Linked DNA regions of Homo sapiens. The gene in region 2 interacts genetically with the main gene of each other region. Each region holds a gene or a part of one and is shown on either strand. Other genes may lie near its edges. The genes, in order: TFF1 and PRKCZ.

Region 1 (8,658 bases), on a different chromosome or scaffold from region 2:
GACCTGGATGGAGGGTCTCAGTGGTGGCAGTAGTGTGTGAGCAGTGGCCGGAGAGTGTGAGTGGTGGTCAGAGGGAGTGCACGGTGGCCAGAGAGCATAAGTGGTGACTGGATGGTATGAGCGGTGGCTGGACGGTGTGAGCCATGGCCGGAGGTTTTGAGTGGCACCCGAAGGGTGTGGCCGGAGGGAGTGAGCTCTGGCTGGAGGGAGTGGCCAGTGGCAGGAAGGTGTGAGCAATGGCCAGATGGTGTGAGGGGTGGTCAGAGGGAGTAAGCGGTGGCTTGAGGGAGTGAGTGGTGGCCAGAGGGTGTGAGTGGTGGCTGAAGGGTGTGGGCTGTGGCCGGAGGGAGTGAGCAGTGATCAGATATGGGACCTGGACGGAGGGTTTGAGCGGTGGCTGGAGGGTGTGGGCAGTGGCTGGAGGGTGTGGGTGGTGACTGGAGGGAATGAGCAGTGGCCACAGGATGTAAGACCTGAACGGAGGGTTGGAGTGGTGGCTGTAGTGTGTGAGCAGTGGCTGGAGGGTGTGAGTGGTCGTTGGAGGGAGTGATCCCTGACTGGAGGGACTGAGCAGTGACCGGAGGGTGTGATTGGTGGCCAGAAGGAGTTGGCGGTGGCTGGAGGGTGTGAGCGGTGTCCGGAGGGAGTGGATGGTGTCTGGAGGGTGTACCACCAAGGACGCCTTTCTGATCGTCCTGCGTCCATGCTCAGTCCTGGATCTCCTCTTCCCTTTCTGGGTGTGTGTGGCTCTGGAAGAAGCTGGCTAACCTGACGAGGTTACCGCCCTACTGTCACCATGGAAGCATAGCGCCTCAGCCACTCTCCCTGGAGGAGCCTGGCCTCACACTCCAATCATTCCCCTCTCCTTCTGGGTTAATTTGAGGAATGTGGTCCCGCTCCATGCTGTGGGTCTGTGCCTCAAGTTCCCTGGCCAGGAAAGTACCTGCCTCCTCCAATACCTGAGGACCCCAACCCCAGGGCCTCAGCTGGGTGTCCTTGTAAAGGGTCCCTGGGGTGGCAGTTGCTTTTTTGACCAGAGGCCTGGCAGGAAACGGGCTTCACCACAGCGGATCTGGGCAATGCGAGGAGAGTGAAGACTGTAAAAGTCTCCTTGCGGCTGGTAAACCCCCCAGGCTGGGGCAGGGGGGTGAGGGGTCTGCTCTGGGGCCTGGGGAAGATGGTGTGTGGAGAGGACGCCCACCTGGGCTGTGGCTGAGAGGGGGACGTGGCCTGTCCCAGGTGATCCCAGGAGGGATCCTGGAGGAGAGCCCGGATCCACTTCCTCCCAAACTCCTCCCTCCCTCCAGGGCCACCTACAGAACCCCCTCCTGCCAAGGCACAGGTCAGGGGCAGCGGGCAGGTGGGGAGCGTCAGGAGGAGACTGACTCCCCAACTGCGCGTCCCCCTTGTGGGGAATCTGGGCGGCTGCGGGGCCCCCCACTGAAAATGAGGGGCTCTCGCCAGACCGCAGGGAGGTCGGCTGGGCGCAGGAAACAAGCAATGCCTGCACAGCCACAGACGCCCCCACGGCCATAGATGCCTGCCGGAGAGGGTCTGAGGTGCGGAGTCTTCAGATGTCCTGTGGCCCAGCCACTGCGTCTTTCAGATAAGAAAACTAAGACCCAGAGCTGTGAAAATGCTGGCACAGGGTCCCCCACTGATGATGGACTGGCGCTTGCCTCTGCATTCTCTCCCTCGCCACACTGGAATTGTCTTCAACAAGTTTTTATGGATAAGGTTATGTATGGTGTGGTCTTGGGTTCCGCCCACTCTCACAGGGATAAAGCTCTTGTCCCGAGAAACGGAGAGTCCCGGGGGCAGCTCCAGCCGCTCCAACCCTAATGTGGGAGGCCAAACTCCGGCACTTGGTAGTTATCTCACAGCTCTCCCAAGGAGATAGGAGCTGGGCTTTCCAAGAAAGCAATTGCAAACATGTACAGAATGCTAGAACAACATCCGTGAATCTACGCTGCCCCTCATTAATGGATGCTAACCTTTTTACCTTATTTCCCTCAGATTTTCTTCAACAAAAGAAAACATTACGGAGACATCGAAGGCCCCTTTGCGCCCTACCCCGCCACCTTTTCCTGCTTCCTCCTTCCTAGACAGACCCATCATGCTGAAGTCAGTGTCTCGTTCCTGTCTACACTGTCATCATTTTGTTCATCTGGATGCAGTTCCAACAGTATATCACATTGTTTCACATAGTTTGGAAATCTACATTATAAATGATATCCTACTTTACAAACCATTTTAACGGATTTTTTCACTTCGCTTTGTTTTCAATATTTCTCATTATTTATTCATTTTCATCTTCTGAAAGATACTCACATACATACATATATAATATATGTAAAGTATAATACATGTATGCAATTAGTTCTCTATATTCATGGGTTCTACATCCATGGATTCCAGTAATGTCAGATCAAAACTGTTTTAAAATCCAGCTGGGCACAGTGGCTCACACTTGTAATCCCAGCACTTTGGGAGGCTGAGGCGGGTGCATCACCTGAGGTCAGGAGTTCGAGACCAGCCTGGCCAACATGGTGAAGCCCTGTCTCTACTAAAAACACAAAAATTAGCTGGGCGTGGTGGCACATGCCTGTAATCCCAGCTACTCAGGAGGCTGAGGCAGGAGAATCACTTAAACCTGGGAGGTGGAGGTTGCAGTAAGCTGAGATCATGCCACCGCACTCCAGCCTGGGCGACAGAGCAAGACTCTGTCTCAAAAAAAAAAAGTATTTTAAAATCTTATTTACAACATCTTAAAGATCAAAACTTGGGTGTGCCGCAAGTCAAGTACTATGTAGAATCTGCAGAATGAAATGAGGTGTAGGTATTGCATCAGGTATTATAACTAACCTAGAGATGGTTAAAGTGTAGGAGAGGATGCACGTGGTTTCTGCGCACTATGTCATTTTATACCAGGGACTTGAGCATTTGTGGATTTTGGCATCCCTGGGTGGGGGGTCCTGAAACCAGTCCCCCAGGGGTACTAAGGGACGACTGCATTGTATTTTAAGTTCATTTTCCCTTTCCCTGGTTAATGAATATTTATTTTGCTTTTCTTTCCCTCCTTTCCTTCCTTCCTTCTTTCCCTGTTTCCAGCTGTTACAAACAATGCTAAAAAGAATATCTTTGCCTGTGTTTTCTTCTGCCCAAGTATGAACATGTTTCTGGGATTAAGAGACCAGGCCTGGAAACAGAAGAATTTGCTGAGCTGTAAAATCTGTATGGCTTAAACCTCACCGAACACTGCCCACCTTTTCTCCAAATGATTGTGCAATTTACATCCCATTTCCAAGAGCCCCCATTTTGATCCGAGAAATTAGAGCAGCGAAAACCACCGTCACTATGAGCACCACCCTGGGCCTGGTGCCCCCGTCCTGTTTTCAATAAACTTAAGCTGACCACAGAGGACACCAGGCCTCGGCCCCTCCCTGGGTCCTGCGGTCAGGCCCCTCCTGGAGACCCTGGCCCAGGAGTGGAGACCCCGGTGCAGGAGTGGCAGCCCTGGAGGAGGGGCTGGGTCCTGGGATGGAGCGAAGAGGAACATGGCCGCCCCCATTCTGGCCCAGGCTCCCCTCCCAGAGGGGCTGCAGAAATGTACTGACTAGGTCACCCAAGAAAAGATAGTACCTTTGTTAGGCTAGCATGCATTTTCCTCAGGGCCTAATTTCTCACTGAAGAAGAAAAGATTTCTCCTGTTGTCCATTTCTTCATGCAGCTCTTCAACAGCTGTTTCTCGAATGCCAATCAAAGCCACTGTTCTAGGGTCTGGGGCCACCTCAAGGCACTAGGAGATGAGGACTTCTGCTCCCATGCGCCCTCCCGTCTGCTGCAGGGAGGAGTGCAATGAATAAATAACCAACATAATGTGTCAGTCACTTGTTTTATCCACCAGGAGGTAATAAGAGCTATGAAAGAGAAAGCTCCGAGCAGGGGAGGGGAGTGAGGCATGGTACAGGAGAGCAGGAGGCTGTCCTCTAAAATACAGGAGTCCAGGGGACCAACTGGGAAGGTGTGGGAGGGGGAGGGAGGGAGCCCCATAGACACAGGGGAGTGAACCACGTTCACTTTGTCAGTTTTTGATGGCAGCTCGTATATACTATTTTTTTCTCCCTCCTGCCCCCAGCCCCTCCCAGAAGGAGACTTAATCTGTCGCTCAGGCTGGAGTGCAGTAGGGTGATCTCGACTCACTGCAACCTCCGCCTCCCAGGTTCAAGTGATTCTCCTGACTTAACCTCCAGAGTAGCTAGGATTACAGGCACCCGCCACCATGCCTGGCTAATTTTTGTATTTTTTTTTTTTGTAGAGACGGGGTTTCGCCATGTTGGCCAGGCTAGTCTCAAACTCCTGACTTTAAGTGATCCGCCTGCTTTGGCCTCCCAAAGTGTTGGGATTACAGGCGTGAGCCACTGCGCCAGGCCTACAATTTCATTATTAAAACAATTCCACTGTAAAAGAATTAGCTTAGGCCTAGACGGAATGGGCTTCATGAGCTCCTTCCCTTCCCCCTGCAAGGTCACGGTGGCCACCCCGTGAGCCACTGTTGTCACGGCCAAGCCTTTTTCCGGCCATCTCTCACTATGAATCACTTCTGCAGTGAGTACAGTATTTACCCTGGCGGGAGGGCCTCTCAGATATGAGTAGGACCTGGATTAAGGTCAGGTTGGAGGAGACTCCCATGGGAAAGAGGGACTTTCTGAATCTCAGATCCCTCAGCCAAGATGACCTCACCACATGTCGTCTCTGTCTATCAGCAAATCCTTCCATGTAGCTTGACCATGTCTAGGAAACACCTTTGATAAAAATCAGTGGAGATTATTGTCTCAGAGGATCCCCGGGCCTCCTTAGGCAAATGTTATCTAACGCTCTTTAAGCAAACAGAGCCTGCCCTATAAAATCCGGGGCTCGGGCGGCCTCTCATCCCTGACTCGGGGTCGCCTTTGGAGCAGAGAGGAGGCAATGGCCACCATGGAGAACAAGGTGATCTGCGCCCTGGTCCTGGTGTCCATGCTGGCCCTCGGCACCCTGGCCGAGGCCCAGACAGGTAAGGCGTGCTTCTTCCTGCTCTGTGGGGCCACAGCCAGCTCTGGCAGCCTCCGCCAGGAGCCACTGTTTTACATACATATTTTTGAGCACCTGTTTTGTGCCAGGTGCTGTTCTAGGCCCTTAAAAGTATATCCAATTTACAGGATCGGCAAAAGCAGGTGGAGAGTAACTCAGGGTGGCAGGGCCCCCGGAGACCTTCGAGAAGTGCGACGAGGAGGGGGCTGCCTTCAGTCGGGGCTGTTTTCCTGTGTTAGGAAGACTATACAATCCTCCCAAGTGTCATGTTTCAAAGAGGAAGTGTTGGCGTGGGGTCTCAGAATAGTGCTTTTGACTGTTCATGCCAACATCTCCCCCAGGGGCAGACCCTCCCAAGGCCCATCCAGATAGGCCCAAATGCCGGTCCCAGTGATGGCCACCTGGGAGACCCTCTCCCACAGGCCCGAATGCCCGTCCCAGTGGTGGCCAACTGGGAGACCCTCTCCTACAGGTTCCTGGGCTCCCCTGGGATCCATGCTCTGGGAGTCAAAGCCACCTCTCTCATGAGTGCGTGGCTGGCAACCCATATTCCCTGGTGTTGTCAAGTGGATCGGTTGCCCTGGGTCCTTCTAGGGAGTGGAGGAGGAGGCCATTCTTGCTTCCTTGGGAAGTGTTTGCATCTCAACTCCTTTACCTGCAGAATGGATCAACGGTCTGCCCTAGGGCTGTCAGGAAATGCTGTGTGGCAGCATCTGCGACTTGCACTTTGCCAGCTGTGGGGAGCTGAATAACTTATTTGCCGTTATTAGGTACAGTTTCAAGGTGGGGGCAGGAGAAAGGGCTTTCTACGTTTCCAAAGCAAGGGTTTCCAGAGAGGCCTGAAGAGGGAGCGCCCAGTGGTGCTGTCCGTGCCCCCACTGCCCTCCAGCCACCTCTTGATCTCTGCTGTGGGGTACCGGGCCTGAGGGGTGGGCTTGGGCAGCGTAGAAGAGCAGCCAGCATTGGGCTGCAGTGGGAAGACCCCCAAGCCCATGGCAGGGAGCGGGGGAGCTTTGGAACCCGAGAGAGGAAGTGGCCTCGGTGTACAGAACGAACTGGGTGGGTCCCCGTGCTGGCCACCCCCAGGCCCATCTGCCTGCGCCCTTGCCCCCACCCCAGCCCCCAGCTCTGCCCCCTGTGCTGTGGGATCACAGAGGCCGTGGCAAACTCCCCTCCCCACCCCACACACCCTCTGGCTCAAGGCTCAGAGCGTCTTTGCGGGTCACTCAGGTCCATGATCCTGTTACAACTGAAATCTAGAAAATTGTGATTACAGTTTAGTGCATTCGTGTGTGGAAACCATTTCCATTTATTTCCATCATGCGACAAAGACAAAGCGGGTGGGCAAGACAGAGTCTGCCGGAGGCAGAGCACCGGGGCTGGAAATCTTCCTCCCTGAGGAGGAAACCCCCCCGACCCCCAGGATGATGATCCTCCCTCACCACGGGGCCTCTCTTGACCCCCACAGTGTCCCGGGGGTGGGCGATGATCACCTTCACGTCGCGATGGATCCAGACCCCAGGAGGGCAAGGTTCCCATGGAAGCTGCTGGGCAGCGGGAGCTGAACACGGATCCTTCCCAGCAAGCCAGGAACACTTTCTCCAAAGACATCTCGAGGCAGTCCCTGATAGCAAAGCAGACAAGAGAACAGCCCCTCTCGGCCTCCCCTGGGGCGCCCTCACCTGAGCCAGTGTGGCCAGACTGAGTTCCTCCCCTCCTATGCCCCAAGGCAGGGACAGGGACCGGAGGGTGCTCTGGGCTCCTCTTTCACCCCCTGCTGCAGGCTGTCAACCACCAGATCCTAATAGGTTGCTTTCTGAGACCTTTGATTCCGCGGAGCTCAGAGCCTGAAGCTCTGGTGTTAGAACCTCTTGCATAAGATCCTGCGGCAGCCCCCAGCCAGCCCCATCTGTCCACGTGTCTTCCTCCTCTAGATCCCTTTCCTCACTGCCCTGCTTCAAGCTGTTTCACAGCTTGTACCCTCTGTCGGCTCCTCCTAGACCACCCCACCCGGTCCTCTCACCTTACCTGCAATGGGTTTCCACCTCCTGAACACACCTGGGTCTCTGGAATGGCCTTTGCCCATGCGGCTCCATCTTCACCTGGTGAACCTCCTCCTGCAGGGAGCCCCCCTGCTTTGTTCAACCTGCTTGTCATTGGCCTCTCCGGGGAGTGCCCTACCCCCGTGGTTACCCTGGGCACCCTGGGACGATGGCCTTGCGTTGTCTCGCACATGTTCTTGCCTTTCTCCTCCATCAGATCCTTAGACTCTTTTTTTTTTTTTTTTGAGATGGAGTCTTGCTCTGTCACTCAGGCTGGAGTGCAATGGTGCGATCTTGGCTCACTACAACCTCTGCCTCCTGGGTTCAAGTGATTCTCCTGCCTCAGCCTCCCAAGTAGCTGGGATTACAGACGTGTGCCACAATGCCCGCCTAATTTTTTGTATTTTTAGTAGAGATGGGGCTTCACCATTTTGGTCAGGCTGGTCTTGAACTCCTGACCTCAAGTGATTCACCTCCTTCAGCCTCCCAAAGTGCTGGGATTACAGGCATGAGCCTGGGCCCAGATATTTAGACTCTTATTAATGACTTCTCTGGTTTTAATTTCTGGGTCTCTCTCACCTGGCACAGTGCCTGGCTTTTGCCATGCTAGCTCCCACTTCTCATGCACACAAATGGTGCTCAGTAAATATTTATGTATTGAGTAAAATTTAATAATCATTTGTTGAAATTAAAAAGTGAATAAATAAGTTACCTAGAAAGATGCAAAGTCCACAAACCTGGGGCACCTTGCATTTTCCCTGAGCGTAATGTTTGCACATCAGGATGTGAGGACCACGTCTCCCTCTCATGTCCTGAGGGTTTTATATCCGCCTCACTGGACAGTTGCTGATGTCATTGGAGAAGGAAGCTGGATGGGTGTGTGCATGATAACATCAAGGAATTCAGCCCACAACTTACTTTGCTTCTTACCTGTGCACTTTCAGAGACGTGTACAGTGGCCCCCCGTGAAAGACAGAATTGTGGTTTTCCTGGTGTCACGCCCTCCCAGTGTGCAAATAAGGGCTGCTGTTTCGACGACACCGTTCGTGGGGTCCCCTGGTGCTTCTATCCTAATACCATCGACGTCCCTCCAGAAGGTATGGCCTTTTTATACGATGGGTTCTGAAGATTTAGAATTAGTTAGAAAAGTCATTTAAGACTACAGAGGCTCTGATCAGCATCACCAGCTATGCCTTTACACAGAGTCACGGCCGCCAGTGGTGGTGCAATGGGGTAGCCTGAGTCAGGCTGCATTCAGGTCCAGGAATAGAAAGGCAGGGCTAAGGGACTTGGGAAGAAACCTGATTTCCCCCCGGCTTCTCTTCACATCTCTAACCAAAAGCCTGGGAAGAGCCACTGTTGGTAACGCTTTCTAGCTTGCCTAGGATAGAGGGGGAAGGCATGACGAAATCTGAAGACATTTCATGTATTCTTTTTTTTTTTTTTTTTTTGAAATGGAGTCTCGCTCCGTTGCCCCTGAGCTGGAGTGCAATGGTGCGATCTTGGCTCACTGCAATCTCTGCCTCCTGAGTTCAACCTCAGC
Region 2 (8,725 bases):
TCGGCCTCCCCAAGTGCTGGGATTACAGGCGTGAGCCACCACGCCCGGCCTATATTTCCTCGTCTTAACTCAGGTGTGAGGTGAGCTCTGTAATAGGAAGGAAATTTGTGAAAAATGGTAAAAGAGGGAAAAGCATATGAAAGGGCTGTGTCTGGAAAGAATCTGAATTGGAGGCTCTGGGCACATGGTGACAGTGCAGATGCACCCCTTTACTCCCAGGAACACTTTGGGCACTTAGGCAAGGCAGAAAATGTCCAAGCAGGTCCCGACAACATTCATTCTCATGCCTTTTGTAACATTTAAACGTTCATGAAAACATCGCCAAACAAGCTGATAATTACCATCATTTTGGAATTGTTCAGAACCATGAAGAATAAAGAAGGATCATTTAAAATCTTGAAAAATACTGAACAAAGAATACTAAGATAATTGCAGGCTGCCATGTAGCAGTTCAAGATGTTCATGAGTCCGAGTTCCCCTTCTCTGAGGCTGTCAGGAGGAGGTTCTGTTTGAATGAAGGTCAGGCAGGGGGTACCCCCACACACTCTGCTTAGCCCTAGACGGGACCCCAGGCTGCTCTACGCAGAGCGCAGCAGGAGCTGCAGCCCCCCAGCCCCTGCAAGCCACGGGGCCTTGCCTGAAGCAGCACCTCGTCACCCCTGCCCGATGGCACCTCCCCTGTGTCCCCTCATGCAGAGCAGGGTTCCAGGCCTCTCCTTGGGGCCACTGGTTCCCCCAACCTTGGGATAGACCCAAGAGGAGGCTCTCAAGCTTGGGCAAGCCTGGCGCCCGGAAGGGACAAGGTGCCGGGGCCACCTGTTGCCCGGCTCAGTGTCCTCTTTTGAGAAGGTATAGGTGTGGAAGGCCCTGCCTGTCCTCTCCGCTGGCCCCTCAGTGTGGCCTGGGCCTGACGCTCTGTTCCCACCTGCAGAGAGCGTACTGCGGTCAGTGCAGCGAGAGGATATGGGGCCTCGCGAGGCAAGGCTACAGGTGCATCAACTGCAAACTGCTGGTCCATAAGCGCTGCCACGGCCTCGTCCCGCTGACCTGCAGGAAGCATATGGTGAGTGGCAGGGCTGGGGAGGCCCGGGGGGCACGGGCGGGGTCGGGGCGTGGCAGCCAGCCCATTGTCCAAGCAGACCTTGGTGACCCTGGGTTCTTCAAGAGGGGCCGTGGTGCCGTCCTAGCTCTGGGCTGCAGCGTGAGACTCAGGCGGCAGTCTTGGATAGGACCCATCTTCCTGAGCCCCCACAAGCCCCCGGCACACTCTGCTCATTGGGGCATGAGGCTCAGGCAGCAGGCTCAGGTAGGACGTGGTACGCTCTGCTCAGTGGGTCGGAGGTAAGGTTCATTCATACCCCAGTCTTGAACCAGCTCTTAAGGACTGTGGAGGTGAAAGCCAGGTCTGACCTAGTAGCATTGGGCACGCTGAGGCTCCGAACATCTGGAGCCTCTCCCTGGCATCCCCCCTGGGAAGCCATGCCCAGCCTGTGATGAGGGCGGCACCTTCCCTCCGCCATCCCCGAGTGCTTGGACTTGAAGCATCCAGGCCTTTGGGGGCCTTATTGACTTTTGCTTATTGAAGGCTGCCTCTGGCATTTCCGTGTGGCCCCCTGCATCCCACTGAACCACGGGGGTGAGGCCTGGACTGAACATTCAACTCCCTGGGCCCTGCTGCAGCGTGCAGTGGGTGTGTCTGGGGAGGGTGGCTTGTCTGCATCTTGCTGTGGCATGGGAGGAAAGGCGCCTGTGGCAGTGACGTGCCCTCTCCTCTGTTACGGGATAAAGACAGAGTCTGGATCAGGGTGTCACCCCAGGATCACCAGCCACAGGGATGGGGGACCACGCAGGCTGGTGCATGCGTTGGCACAGTCCTTCCAGAGGTCCTTCAGCTGCATCTGCCAAAAAGCCTGTAATGCCCTTTGACCTCATAGGTCCACTTTAGCGTAAGCAAATGAGACCGGCCCCAGAAATGTGGTCAGCTAGAGGCGGAGGGAGGCCAGAGCCTGCCACCCAGCTGACCACCAGTACTGGTGGCTCCATTATGACATATCTGCAGGCGGAACCCAGAGGCCCTTAGAATGGCCCCCTGATGCTTGGTTACTGACAGGATGCAGCTTTGGGACAGGGGAGATGACCAAGCATTGTGCAAAATATCCCGTTGTATAAAGCACTTGGTGGAAAGGTCATGGCCTGCAGTACCGAGTGGCCACCTCCGTCTGCAGAATCATAGGTAATGTTTATGTTCTTTATCTAATTCAGTAAAATAGCATAACAATTAGATTTTTATATACTATATTACAGTATACCCATTGTAATGTGTAAATATGTAAATCATAAATAGTCTTGAAGTGGCCAGGTGCAGAGGCTCACACCTGTAATCCCAACACTTTGGGAGGCCAAGGTGGGAAGATCACTTGAGGCCAGGAGTTCAAGACCAGCCTGAGCAATATGGTGAGACCCCATCTCTACAAAAAAAATACAAAAATTAGCCAGGCATGGTGGTGCGCACCTGTAGTGCCCGCTGCTCTGGAAGCTGAGGCGGGAGGATTGCTCGAGCTCAGGAGGTTGAAGCTGCAGTGAGCCGTGATCGCGCCACTGCTCTCCAGCCTGGATGATGACAGACTGTGACCCTGTCTGTAAAAAAAAGTTCTTAATTTTAAAAAGTCACAAAGTGTTTACAGAAGCTACATTGTAACACCTGCTCTAGCACTTGGTCATGCTGCCATCTCTGTGTCTCTCCGGCAGGATTCTGTCATGCCTTCCCAAGAGCCTCCAGTAGACGACAAGAACGAGGACGCCGACCTTCCTTCCGAGGAGACAGATGGAAGTAGGCGCTGCTTTCTTCCGGCCGGGTAGAGCCTGGGCATCACCTCACCCTGCTCACCTCTGCCTTCTAGCCACGAGTCCTTTCTCAGTCCCATCTGCTCTGCAGGGGTCATTGTCTTCAAGCCTGGCCACCCTTCCCTGGGGCTGGGGATGAGGCTCTCCAGGGCCTCCTCTCAATCCCCGGCAGAGATGAGCAGGGTGAGCTGGCCCTCCCTGGAGGCTGCTGGGCAGGGATGCCTCCGTGAAGTGCTGTTGTGGTTGCCCAGGGGTGCAGAGCCTCTTCCTCTAACCAGCTCCGGGAGTTCTCGAAGGCACTTAGTGCAGCAGCCACCATGGCCGGGCACCTCCCACAATCTGGCTGCTGCACAGAGCTGAGCCCTATCTGGGGAAAGCCTGGCGAGGTGGCTGCTGCACACACAGCGTGGCAGTGGCATGGTCCTTGGATTTTTGTGAGGTTTTGTTTGTTGTGGGGAAGGACTTGTTTTATTGCTAAGAAGCATTCAGAGAGAGATCTCAAACACCAGTTGGACTTACAGCCCAGGTTTGAGCCTCCACACCTGCACCTCTGCACGGGGGTGTGAGAGCCTCACTTTCACTTGATGCATGTGAGTTCTGTCTCATTGGGAGACCACAGAACATAAAGCACTTATGAGACCACAGAACATAAAGCACTTAGTTCACACAGTGCCTCACGCAAAAGAGATGCCTCACAAACAACTGCCTGCCCACCTGCTCCTCCACCCACCTATCCTCTATACAGATATTCATCCGTACATCATCCATTCACCCACCTAGCCAACCAACCAGCCCTCATCCAGCCAACCAGCCATCCTCCACCCGCCCATTCTCCATCCATCCACCACCTATCCATCTATCCACGATCCATCCATCTCGTCATCCAGCCAGCCAGCCAGCCATCCTCCACCCACCCATCCTCCAGCTATCTTCCATTCGTTCATCTGTTGTCCACTGACCTCTCCATCTATCCATGTATCTATTGTCCACTGACCTCTCCATCTATCCATCTATTGTCCACTGACCTCTCCGTCTATCCGTCTATTGTCCACTGACCTCTCCATCCAACCGTCTATTGTCCACTGACCTCTCCATCTATCCATCCATCTTTTGTCCACTGACGTCTCCATCTATCCATCTGTCTGTTGTCCACTGACCTCTCCACCCATCTATCTGTTGTCCACTGACCTCTCCATCTTTCCATCTGTTGTCCACTGACCTCTCCATCTATCCATCTATTGTCCACTGACCTCTCTATCTATCCATCTATTGTTCACTGACCTCTCCTTCCATCTATCTGTTGTCCACTGACCTCTCCATCTATCCATCTATCTTGTCCACTGACGTCTCCATCTATCCACACATCTGTTGTCCACTGACGTCTCCATCTGTTCATCTATCTGTTGTCCACTGACCTCTCCACCCATCTGTCTGTTGTCCACTGACCTCTCCATCTTTCCGTCTATTGTCCACTGACCTTTCCATCTATCCAGCTATTGTCCACTGACCTCTCCATCTATCCATCCATCTATTGTCCACTGACGTCTCCATCTGTCCATCTATCTGTTGTCCACTGACCTGTCCACCCATCTGTCTGTTGTCCACTGACCTCTCCATCTATCCATCCACTGTCCACTGACCTCTCCATCTATCCATCCATTGTCCACTGACCTCTCCATCTATCCATCCATCTATTGTCCACTGACGTCTCCATCTGTCCATCTATCTGTTGTCCACTGACCTGTCCACCCATCTGTCTGTAGTCCACTGACCTCTCCATCTTTCCGTCTGTTGTCCACTGACCTCTCCGTCTATCCATCTATCTATTGTCCACTGACCTCTCCATCTATCCATCTATTGTCCACTGACCTCTCCATCTATCCATCCATCTATTGTCCACTGACCTCTCCATCTATCCATCCACTGTCCACTGACCTCTCCATCTATCCATCCATCTATTGTCTACTGACCTCTCCATCTATCCATCCATCTATTGTCCACTGACGTCTCCATCTATCCATCTGTCTGTTGTCCACTGACCTGTCCACCCATCTGTCTGTTGTCCACTGACCTCTCCATCTTTCCGTCTGTTGTCCACTGACCTCTCCGTCTATCCATCTATCTGTTGTCCACTGACCTCTCCATCTATCCATCTATTGTCCACTGACCTCTCCATCTATCCATCCATCTATTGTCCACTGACCTCTCCATCTGTCCATCCACTGTCCACTGACCTCTCCATCTATCCACCTATTGTCCACTGACCTCTCCGTCTATCCATCCATCTATTGTCCACTAACCTCTCCATCTATCCATCCATCTATTGTCCACTGACCTCTCCATCTATCCATCCATTGTGCACTGACCTCTCCATCTATCCGTCTTCTATCCAGGCCTCCATTCATCCCCCATCTAGTCATCCTCCATCCATCCACCAGACATCCACTCCTGCCCCTACCCACCCATTCACTAGACACCAAAATCCGGTGACGAATTATTTGCAGATGGACCCCTGGGGACGTATGTCACGAATGTACATCCCCAGGTCCCATGGTCAGAGTCGGCAGGTGTGAGTGGGGCCCAGGAAACTGCATTTTCAGAAGACTCTAAATTAGAATCAGACATGGCTGCTGTGTGGATTCACCCTTCACCGTCACCCTGCAGAGGAGCAAGGTCCACAGGGTCGCTGTGTTCCCAGTGCGTTCCTGACCACACCGTAACGCCCCTTCCTTCCTCCCTCTCTCACCAGTTGCTTACATTTCCTCATCCCGGAAGCATGACAGCATTAAAGACGACTCGGAGGTGAGTGTGTGGAGCAGCTCGCTGCCATTTCCGACGTCCTCTGGAAAGTCTGTGAGCCTGTCTCTGGGGTAGTCACGGAAATCTAGATGTGAAATAGACATGGTCCGGGGTGTTGCTAACTAATCTTCACGGGTGTGGATGTCTAGAAGGAAGTCCTTATTCTTGGGTCTTACTTCAGGCATGTCCTTGATGAATACCTGCAGGCAGCTGTCCCCGCAGGTGGTCTGGGGACCACACCCTGCGGGGGAAGCCGTGCCCCACATCCTCTCCATTCAGGTGGTACAGTGGCCCAGGGGCTGGCTTTTGAGCTGCAATTTTTATCAAGTTGTGTCTGCACCATGCCTTCCGAATTGTGTTGCCTCATTTGGCCATCCTGGCAAACCCTCTGAAGCCCTTTCATGTCCTTCCCCAACTTGAGCCAAGAGGCTCAACTGAGCCTCACGTCTGTGGCCAGCTCTGCACCATAAACCCTGAGAAGGGAACAGAAGAGCTTGCTGCGTTCTCAGCCTCTGCTCGTAAAACCCAGGGAAGGACTGCACTAGCGAAGCCCACTCCTTTCCAGAGCACCAACAAGTGTCACCCTCACAACTCGTGCTCCTTCCTGGCCATCCTGTGTCTGGAGGGAGGCCGGGGCACTTAGAAAGCAGAATCTGAGGCTGAGCACGGCGACTCACACCTCCAATCCCAGCATTTTGGGAGGCTGCGCACATCGCTTGAGTCCAGGAGCTCGAGAACAGCCTGGGCAGCATAGCGAGACCCTGTTCCTACAAAAATAAATACAAAATAATTAGCTGGGCATGGTGGCACGGGCCTGTGGTCCTAGCTGCTTGGGAGGCTGAGGTGGGAGGATCGCCTGAGCCTGGGAGGTGGAGGCTGCAGTGAGCTGAGATCGCACCACTGCACTCCAGCCTGGGCGACAGAGGAAGAGTCTGTCTCAAAAAAAGCAGAATCCGGCTGGGCGCGGTGGCTCACGCCTGTAATCCCAGCACTTTGGGAAGCTGAGGCGGGCAGATCACGAGGTCAGGAGATGGAGACCATCCTGGCTAACACGGTGAAACCCCGTCTCTACTAAAAATACAAAAAAAAAAAAAGCTGGGCGTGGTGGCGGGCGCCTGTAGTCCCAGCTACTGGGGAGGCTGAGGCAGGAGAATGGCGTGAACCCGGGAGGTGGAGCTTGTAGTGAGTCGAGATCGTGCCACTGCACTCCAGCCTGGGCGACAGAGCCAGACTCCGTCTCAAAAAAAAAAAAAAAAAAAAAGCAGAATCCATTTTGCCGCACAGAACAGCACCTCCCAAGGAACCGCCTCCTCCACCCCGACCTCCTTGCCAGGTGTAGCTTGCGGGAGGCAGAGGCTTCTGTTCTTCCTCGGAGCGCCTTTCTCCTGGGTATTTCTAATAATTATTTCTAATAATGTGTGCCTGCCGGTTTGGGAGCTCTTGGCAGGCATTAGCTGCATTCGCTTTACCTTCCTTCCCCTGAGGGAGGGCACTGATCAGGAAGGATGGGCCCAGGCCCTGGGCCACATGTCCCTGTGGCCACCTCTTCAGCCCCACTGATAGGGCTGAGGGCCTGGGGGTCCCTCCCACCTGCAGCTGTGACCAGAGCCATGGTCTGTGGAACGAACAGCTTCTAGCTTTCTAGCACCTTCCTCAGAAGCACACAGCCTTAAATTCTTACCTTTCATGCCCCAGTTTAGATGGGAGTTTGGGGGTGGGATATGTGGGACGCAGAACTGAGACTCGAATCATGAGGCCCTGGGCTCTGAGGAGCAGGTCTCTGTTGGGACCGCATGAGTGATGCGTGGTCCTCTGAGTCTCCCGGGAACCCCCCTCTCACTTTCTGGGGTCTTGTTCTCCCTCCCTAGGACCTTAAGCCAGTTATCGATGGGATGGATGGAATCAAAATCTCTCAGGGGCTTGGGCTGCAGGACTTTGACCTAATCAGAGTCATCGGGCGCGGGAGCTACGCCAAGGTTCTCCTGGTGCGGTTGAAGAAGAATGACCAAATTTACGCCATGAAAGTGGTGAAGAAAGAGCTGGTGCATGATGACGAGGTAGGTGCCGCTTCTCATGGGGCCCGGGGGCCCGGGAACGCGCTGCCCTGGGGCCTCCTCCGGGCTTTAGCGGAATTAATCCATGCACGAGAGACCTAGCCTCACGTTGACGGAGTTTGTGCAAAATCAATAGTCATGCATCGTGTAATGACCAGGATGTGTTCTGGAAAGTGCCTGGTTAGGTAATGGCACTGTTGTGTGAACATCACAGTGTGCACTCCACAAACCCAAACAGCACAGCCAACTCCACAGCCAAGATGCACAGTGCAGCTCCTGCTCCCAGGCTGCAAGCCCGTACGGCTGTTAGTGCACTGCACACTGCAGGCAGTGAGGGGACCACCACGAGAGCACTCACGTGTCTAAGCTTAGAAAAGGTGAAGATGGGTATCGTGGTCTCTGCAACCTTCTCATGTATGGCCAACCACTGATACGTTGCCTTCCAGCAGACTGCGGTTGAGTTTTAGGATGTCATCACCCTTGTTAGGAAATCTCTGGGGTTGAGCTGAACTGGACGGGTGATGGGGTGGGACAGGAAGCTGCCCAGAGGCACTGCCCTGCTCCGTCCTGCACAAGGCCCCAGCTTTGCAGTACATGCTGAGCTGCCGTGGCTCTGTGTAGCAGATCTTCCCACACCAGCTGTTTCTAGGGGAGAAGTTTGTTGATTATAGGATCAATGGTTTATTTGTTGAAATCTTTTTTTTTGGAAACGGTCTTACTCTGTCACCCAGACTGGAGTGGCTTGATCACAGCCCACTATAGCCTCAAAGTCCCCAGCTCAGGTGATCCTCCCACTTCAGCCTCTGGAGTGTTGGGACTACAGGCATGAGCCACCACCCCCAGCTGTATAATTTTTGTATTTTTTGTAGAGGCAGTGTCTCATTCTGTTACCCAGGCTGGAGGGCAGAGCATGATCACGGTTCACCTCCTGCAGCCTCCACCTCCTCCTGCAGCCTCCACCTCCTGCTAGGCTGAGGTGATCCTCTTGCCTCAGCCTCCAGAGGAACCAGGACTACAGGCATGCACCA

The links.
Region 1: of PRKCZ (region 2) and TFF1, changing one enhances a phenotype caused by changing the other (phenotypic enhancement), as found in Homo sapiens cells (one study listed by BioGRID).

What each region holds. Positions count from the first base shown.
Region 1 is NC_000021.9:42,362,809-42,371,466, reverse strand, and holds the start of TFF1 (trefoil factor 1 precursor), read left to right. Parts: upstream 1-4,931; 5' UTR 4,932-4,971; coding exon 4,972-5,056; intron 5,057-6,354; exon of another isoform or gene 6,355-8,059; coding exon 8,060-8,212; exon of another isoform or gene 8,213-8,237; intron 8,238-8,658. UniProt on the Homo sapiens protein: Stabilizer of the mucous gel overlying the gastrointestinal mucosa that provides a physical barrier against various noxious agents. May inhibit the growth of calcium oxalate crystals in urine.
Region 2 is NC_000001.11:2,143,279-2,152,003, forward strand, and holds part of PRKCZ (protein kinase C zeta type), read left to right. Parts: intron 1-931; coding exon 932-1,063; intron 1,064-2,108; exon of another isoform or gene 2,109-2,233; intron 2,234-2,748; coding exon 2,749-2,830; exon of another isoform or gene 2,831-3,027; intron 3,028-5,593; coding exon 5,594-5,646; intron 5,647-7,511; coding exon 7,512-7,700; intron 7,701-8,725. UniProt on the Homo sapiens protein: Calcium- and diacylglycerol-independent serine/threonine-protein kinase that functions in phosphatidylinositol 3-kinase (PI3K) pathway and mitogen-activated protein (MAP) kinase cascade, and is involved in NF-kappa-B activation, mitogenic signaling, cell proliferation, cell polarity, inflammatory response and maintenance of long-term potentiation (LTP).